2 linked regions of the Homo sapiens genome follow. The protein of the gene in region 2 interacts with the protein of the main gene of each other region in a biochemical or structural test. Each region holds a gene or a part of one and is shown on either strand. Other genes may lie near its edges.

The links.
Region 1: the proteins of CEP170 (region 2) and TNKS2 interact in a biophysical measurement, tested with the Homo sapiens proteins (one study listed by IntAct).

Annotation. Positions count from the first base shown.
Region 1 is NC_000010.11:91,801,200-91,805,117, reverse strand, and holds part of TNKS2 (poly [ADP-ribose] polymerase tankyrase-2), read right to left. Parts: intron 1-3,918. UniProt on the Homo sapiens protein: Poly-ADP-ribosyltransferase involved in various processes such as Wnt signaling pathway, telomere length and vesicle trafficking.
Region 2 is NC_000001.11:243,253,100-243,257,017, forward strand, and holds the start of CEP170 (centrosomal protein of 170 kDa), read right to left. Parts: upstream 2,183-3,918; 5' UTR 1,941-2,182; exon of another isoform or gene 3-1,940; intron 1-2. Other genes in the region: SDCCAG8 (serologically defined colon cancer antigen 8), read left to right, coding at 3,075-3,141.

The sequences.
Region 1 (3,918 bases), on a different chromosome or scaffold from region 2:
AAAAAAAAAAGTTGCTTGGAGTTTGGCGAAATCTTTAGATTGAAGATACTTCCTGGCTGGGCACTGTGGCTCACACCTGTAATCCCAGCACTTTGGGAGACAGAGGTGGGTGGATCACCTGAGGTCAGGAATTCGAGACCACCATAGCCAACATGGTGAAACCCTGTTTCTACTAAAAATATAAAAATTAGCCAGGCGTGGTGGTACATACCTGTAATCCCAGCTACTCGGGAGGCTGAAGCAGGAGGCAGGAGAATTGCTTGAACCTGGGAGGTGGAGGTTGAAGTGAGCCAAGATCGCACCACTGCACTCCAGCCTGGGCGACAAGAGTGAAACTCTGTGCCTCACCCCCACAACCCCCAAAAAACCATACTTCCCAAACTGAGGAGTAATCCTTGATAAAATCTCTATTGTTATGGTCTCAAGAATAGTTCAAAGTACTTCTGTTAAGCACCAATTTCTGGAAGAAAAAATGCTCTGCAGGGTATATTCTGATCATGTTCTCACTGGCCAGGTAGAACATGAATAGGCATATCATCAGAGTCAATGTAAATCTCCATATTCTAAGGATCTCTTTATGAGGAACCAGAAGCCTAAATAAAGTTGGTAGTCATGGCTGCTCAGGACACACTGTAGTTTATTTTGTAATTATGGAACAGCACTCAACTTCAAACACTGTTCTACTTGTGAAAATTCTGATGAAACCATACACAGAGTATGAATCTACTATATAGTACTTACAGTGAAGCAAAGCAGGCCTATCTGTAAAGTATACTTGTTGACCACATTAACCATGTGTCAGTTAATGGCAGGTATTGTGTCCTGTTCATTTCAGTTTACTCAGGGACAAGGTCAGTGTCTGGCATATAGCAGGACTTGACAAACATTTGTTTAATGCATGTCTAATACTCTGCTGGAATAGGAAAGGATCCTCACAAAGAATATGGTGTTAATGATTTGTGAAAACAGAGAAAAGCAGCCTCTTGTCAAATTTATTACTTATCTAGATGCCATCAGTTTCAGCAACTCCAGGTACTGCTTGCTAACTATGACTATTGTTAATAATATCACATTTTGCTGCTACACTGGAAACATGCTTTCATCTGAATGGTTTCCCAAAAGCTGTGAGGCAGTCAAGTTCCTACAGAGAAACCAACTTAGACTCTTAGGAAGTTTAACTAAATGCTATCCCCCTCCTGTCTTTCATAGTCCAAAGGTGGGATTAATCACTGATAACACAATTGGTCCCATATGAGATGGTGATGTCTTGCAATATCTAAAGGTAGGCTATCACACAGGGTTTTGTCCAAAGGCAAAGTTCTGGAAAAATGTCAACAAATGCCACAAAACAAAGCTCCTGTAGTCTGGGAGATTGGAAGGTATAATCAAACAGCCTTCAGCTTTCAAGCAACCTTTAGCCAGGACTCTCAGTGACACATTTTTTCTGAGGAATGTCATTTTAAACTTCTCATTTACTATTTTGTGTTACAAGGTTTCCCTCTGTTGCCCAGCCTAGAGTGCAATGGCGCAATCTCGGCTCACTGCAGCCTTGGCTCAAGTAATCCTCTAACCTTAGCCTCCCAAGTAGCTAGGACTACAGGCCTGCACCACCATGCCTGGCTACTTTTTCTATTTTTTTGTAGAGATGGGGTTTCGCCATGTTGCCCAGGCTGCTCTTGAACTCTTAAGCTCAAGTGATACTCCTGTCTTTGCCTCCCAGAGTGTCAGTTCTGTGCCACCATGCCCGGCTCATTTTTCTATTTTCTTGTAGAGATGAGGTGTCACCATTGTTGCCCAGGCTGGTCTTGAACTCTTGAGTTCAGGTGATACTCCTGCCTTTGCCTCCCAGAGTGCTGGGATTATAGCCTGTGGCACTGTGCCCGGGCCTCATTTACTATTAACTTTAGTTTGCTAAGATCCAGAAAATTATTTCCCACATATACTTCTTAAGAACGAAGAATACAAGGGAGAGGACTTTGCCCATCTCAACTTGGGATAGACATACTGTCTGGCCAGATTAGTAGAAACTTGGAAAAGAACGCCATGGCCTCTACGGTGATGAAATTTTGACCATCTGAATGGGGGTACACTGAAAGGAGTACTCCAAACTCTTGTTATTGAAGTCAACTGTCTACCTCCAAATCCAGCAAGCGCTGAGGGCAAAGGTATAGCTCAAAGTCTTGATAATACATTGGGAGATTTGATAAGTCAAGAAAGATGATGAATTCCTAAATAGACTGATCTTTATTTGACACTAGGGTTTCCTGCTGATGTATGATTTATCTCCCATAGCAAAAACCAATCCTGAAAACAACAATCTATAACTGTAGTTCTAGGTGAAGAGTGTTGGATAAATTTTGTGCATCTCTTGTAACTATGATGTTGGCCTACAGCCAAAGAAGAAAATGTTACTGAGAGGTTATTGGAGGTCTCCAATGGTTATCATTTTGGGAAAAGATATGAATGGCAATCACAAAAGCTAGTATATCTTTGGTAGCTGAGCAGCTAAAGCCTTCAATTGGAGGAATCATCCCACTTTCTTGTACTAGTGAGATTATAACCTGTTGGTCGAACTAGGCTGAAATCCTCTCTACAACATCTCTGAAAAATGCCAATCCAGCCACTGCTTGGATACTTCCAGACAGTTCGATCGCTGAATATTGTTAAAGGTTGTCTGACCCCTTGTAACCTTCCACCTGCTGGCCTTAGTTTTGACTCCCAAAGCCACACAAGTAATATCCACTCACTCTTTGTGATTCTTCCACATATGTGAAGACGATAACATGGTATAGTCTTCTTTCATCTCTAGAATAAGCAGCACTAATTTTCGTATCTATGCTTGTGCAATAAATTCTGGATGCTCTGATTCCACTTTCCTCCTCTGAATAAAAAAATCCCCTCTTATATTTGATTCACACAATTGAATATAATAATCCAAGTCCGGTCTAACTGGTCCTATGTATGTGGTTCAGTAGCATACTCATACTAACAGTAACATAACATACTATAAATATAAAATAAGTGTTACCTTGTTTAGCTAGGACTCTACAATGCAAGCTCCTACCCCTACTCCAAGAGTTCTAAGATTGTAAGGAATGCCACATATTTCTTTCATTTCTATGATGGGCATCAAGATAACTTTCTCCCCAAGTTTGTGTCACCTCTTCTTTACTTTTTAGAAATAAGTTCACAGAAGCAGAGTCTTCTTTACTGAAATTTGCTGTTTTCTAGGGCATTAACTGTCAAGAATTTCAGATACTTTTGCTTTTAGTAAAATTAGAGCAACAGCCACCCTACCACCAACTTGCCTCTACAAATTCTGTTGTGTTGGAAAAAAATCATTCCTGGCCGGGCGCAGTGGCTCACGCCTGTAATCCCAGCACTTTGGGAGGCCGAGGCAGGCGGATCACGAGATCAGGAGTTTGAGACCAGCCTGACCAACATGTTGAAACCCTGTCTCTACTAAAAATACAAAAATTTGCCGGGCGTGGCAGTGCGCACCTGTAATCCCAGCTACTTAGGAGGCTGAGACAGGAGAATCGGTCGAACCCGGAAGGTGGGGGTTGCAGTGAGCTGAGATCGTGACGCTGCACTCCAGCCTGGGAGACAGAACTAGACTCCATCTCAAAAAAAAAAAGAAAAATTCCTGTCTTGTGTATATCTGCGTATGGTCGGGGGCAGTGGCAGGCGGACTGAAAAGGAAACAATTTACAGAGTCATTTTTCTCCTAAGGAATTACTTCTTAAATAATATTTATCTAGAAGAAAAGTATGCAATCTAGTTCAGTAATAAAAAAACACCTAGTAGAAGGAAAATTCCTGTTTATGTTGACTATCTTCTTCATTAACAGAATTTAACTCTCTTGGTGCTAGCAACGGATTATTCTTTTAATTGAACTAACTTTTGGGGATGAAATTA
Region 2 (3,918 bases):
ACCGTTAAGTAGCTACCATTAGGTAGTAGGGAAAACACTGCAACACTTCGTTTTTATGAAAAGCACATGTTAGGACATCTTTCCTCATGTAGTAAGTTACTTTATGAAAGTAAAGGTCCATTTTAGGAGGATTACTACTTTTACATCACAAAGGCAAGAACTAGATTAATCACGGTGAGAATCAAGTTCAGTGATAGTCACAGCCTACTCAGGGAGCACATAGAGAAGCTTTCCATACATTTTCACAAGGTAAAAGGGCTAGGGGGACACAGGAAAGATCACTCTGCAGAATGGACCTTGAGTTTCGTTTGGCTCTGCCTTCGATTAACTGTCTGGCTTGGGCAGACAAGTCAGTTAACTTTCTGAGTTTTAGTGTCTTCCTCTGTCAAGTGCACTTGGGCTCTTCCGTGTTATCTACAAAGTTAGGAAGAGCTAAAGGCAGCCCTAGTTTTACTTTTTAAAAAATAATAACAGAAAAATACATAAGTTGCTATTCATCAGTGTACTGTTTCCAGAGCTGAATTCCTAAGTCTCTGAAGCATACCCAGTTAGGGTTATACCAGTGAAGATCCAGATACTATAGTCATAATGTCACTCTCTCCTCTCCCATTATTCCTCCACCTGCTCCTCCCCATCCTGCTTTATTCTCTCTTCTGGTGTGTTTTAAGAAGCAACGCCAGCAAACGGCTGCATACATTGTAAGCTTAAGGATTAAATCATTTTAAAATATGCATTTTCAATCAAATGTATCATCTGCTTCGCCAAATTCCTCCCAAATGGCTGAATTTTCATTAAGAGAATAAAAATGAGTTAACAACTTCGGTAACAGAAATGTACTGGGCCAGTTGTTTTGTTTGTTTTACTTGCTTAAAAAATAAACGGAAAGATGTATCCATTCCCTCAGGAACATAAATGCATTACCTGCCCAATGAAAAAACAATTCTGCTTGTTCATTTCCCTGACACAACAGCTTCGTTGTCAGGCCCTCTCTAGCCCAGGCTCCAACGTCACCTAGTAATTTTATATTGATCACCTTGGCAGTGCTTGGACTCCAGCAGGCATAGTCCCTGTCTTCCTTACATTCCTCAAAATAAATAAATAAATAAATAAATAAATAAATAAAACTCTACGAAACACCACCGAACAGAGATTCTGTGACTTAGTATACAAATCCCACGTCTTCCCGCCCTGTGTTAGGCAGCTGCAAATGTTATTTTTTCATCGCTTGCATAAAATGGAAGCGAAACGTACCAAAACCCTACATCTGAATCCTAGGACAATGAAGCCGACAGGAAGCCACTCTCTCCTCCCCCGGGTTTACTACAGAGCCAGAGCCTCCACGGGGTGCAGTCGCCAGGCAGGGTGCATGACACCGCGTCTTCCACGCCCTCCCAACGCGTCCAAAAGGTTGCTCGCCTGACCTCGCCAACCGCCTCACACCCCAAAACCAATCACACAAAAGGGATTGGCCCGGGGAGCTGCTCCAATGGGGGAAAAATCCCTTCCCCAGCGGCAGCGCAGCCATTCCCTCCAATGCTCCGCCCGCACCCCTCGCAAACTGCTACGGCGGAGGGGGGAGGGCTGCACAAAGCCAGTCGAAAGCTGAAAATGATTCAATGCACTTAGGGGATGCGGAGGCGGCAGCAAGGGGCTCGGGAAAGCCGGGGGGCCGCAGGACTGGAGCTCCGGGGGGCGGCGGGTGGGGGATGGGAAGGGTGGTCCCGTCAAGCCCCGGGTCCCAGGCGGGCAGAGGGTGGGGGTGGCGGCGCCGCGCGGAGCACCCGGGAAGCGCCCCCTTCGCGGTCCAGCCCCGCACCCCCGCCCCGCGGCGGGCGGCGCCCGAGTCCTCGCCGCAAACCCGAGGAGCAGGATGTGGAAAGCAGCCGCGGCGGTGGCTGCGGCTGCGGCGCCTACACCGAGCAGCCGATCGCATCACTTACCCCTTACCGTGGAGAGAGGGACCGGACGGGGGAGGCGGGGCGCGTCGCGTCCCGTGAGTCTCTCGCACGCCGTCCTCCCCCCACCTCGTCGTCGTCGTCGTCGCCGCTGTTGTCGTCGCTGCCGCTGCGGTCGAGCTCCGGGGCCCTCAGCTCCGCTGGGCAATAACGTTATTCCACACACGCCCCACACATAGCGGTAACGGCAAAGACCGACTGCCTAGTGCGCAGGCGCCTCGGGAAAGGGCGAGGAGCCGGACCCTATCCCCTCCTGCCCAGTTCCAACGATCCCTTACTGCGCAGGCGCCACACACAGACAATGAAAAGGGGTTGTGCGAGGGTCTCACCCACACGCTTTTCCAGCTTGCCCACTGCGCAGGCGTGCCCCGAAAGACCAGCTTGAACAATGAAGAGGACCTCGGCGTTAGGTGGGACCGCAACCAACAAGGACTACAGTTCCCAGCGGGCAGAGCGCCAACTCCAAGTGAAGGTCCGGTTGCTGGGCATGCTAGGAGTTGTAGTGTCGGCCGCCTTTACAATCTAGGCTGTTTGGAAGATTTAGAGCTTCTATTTCTTGAAGATTTATTCGACCGTTTTAAAAAATCTCGCAACTGAAGCAGGGTTCAGAGTTTACTATCTGCGTCCTTGAGTAGCCTGGGGATCAACTGCTGCATATTAGCAAATTTCGAAGCGTCAAGGCCTTCAGTGAGCCCTTTCTGTCATTTGGGTGGTCCAGGCAGCTGAAGAGTGGGATGGAGGCGGGACTAAACCAGGCTGGGCTGGAGGAAAAGGGCGGGGCCTGCAAGCCTGTCTCTTGGCAGCAGGCTCTGGCAGCCAAACCGTCCAAGCTAGCGCCTGGAGCGCAGTGGTTTCTGGGAATTGTAGTGTAACTGGAAGGCCCTGAGGATTGTCGAGCTTGCAGGTTCTGAACGTGAGGACTACAACTCCCGACGTGCAAAGCGAGGGCCAGTGGGTGGGAAGAGCCCCCAAGAGCTCTGTGCGGGATTCTAGGCTCCCCTGTGACAGCCGCGGCAGGAAGCAGGCGGGCGCTCCCCGGCCACAGGCCTGTTGTTCTCGGAAGGGAGAAAGCTGGACATTTCCCCACGTAACTCCCAGCTCTGGGCCTAGAGTGCGTGCATGGCGAAGTCCCCGGAGAACTCTACCCTGGAGGAGATTCTGGGGCAGTATCAACGGAGTCTCCGGGGTGAGTTGCTCCAAACCTCTGTCCCTAGCCCCGAGGTGCCCAGGGCCTAGTGGGCGGGAGCAGACCAGGTGCGTTTCCTAACACCTGGGTTCTGCCCCGTCCACGCTACAGAGGAGCAAGATGGATGTTGCTGTGGTCTTGAGGAGGATGAAATAGTTTGATTTAGTTTTTACAGTTAAGCAACGATGTTTCCTCAGATTCCCGTAGTTACCTCAATCAACTCCTTGATCTTAACTTGGCATCTTTCTCAACCGGCGACAGCAGAAACTCTTGGATAGCTCTATGCCATTTTTGTTCAGTTCCCATACGTTGCTATTTAATCCAATAAAAGTCTGATTCACAGTTTTTACACATTTAAATTATGGCACAGTGGATTGAATGTGATTTATGGGATCAGTGGGGGGAAACACTAATAATTATTTTAATCACAAGAGCCCCCTTTTAATTGATTTAGGCTATTTACATACAGTAAATCATCTGCAGCTTACACCAATCGTGTGAATATTTTACACATGGGGAAAGCGAAGCTCAGAGAGGTTGAATTACAGGCCAGAGCCCACACAGCTGGTTAGTTGCAGAGCCAGGTATTATCAGGCTTGCCTTCAAAGCCTATGTTTGTATTTACTAATCAAGCCATAATTACTATTATCAAAACCTTATTAATTTAGATTTTCTTACCACATTACCATATGAGCAAGTATCTGTACAAATAATGTCTGTATTTATTTTCCTTTAAGCTCTGTTGGACTTAATGTCTGTACTTTTAGATGGCGCTGT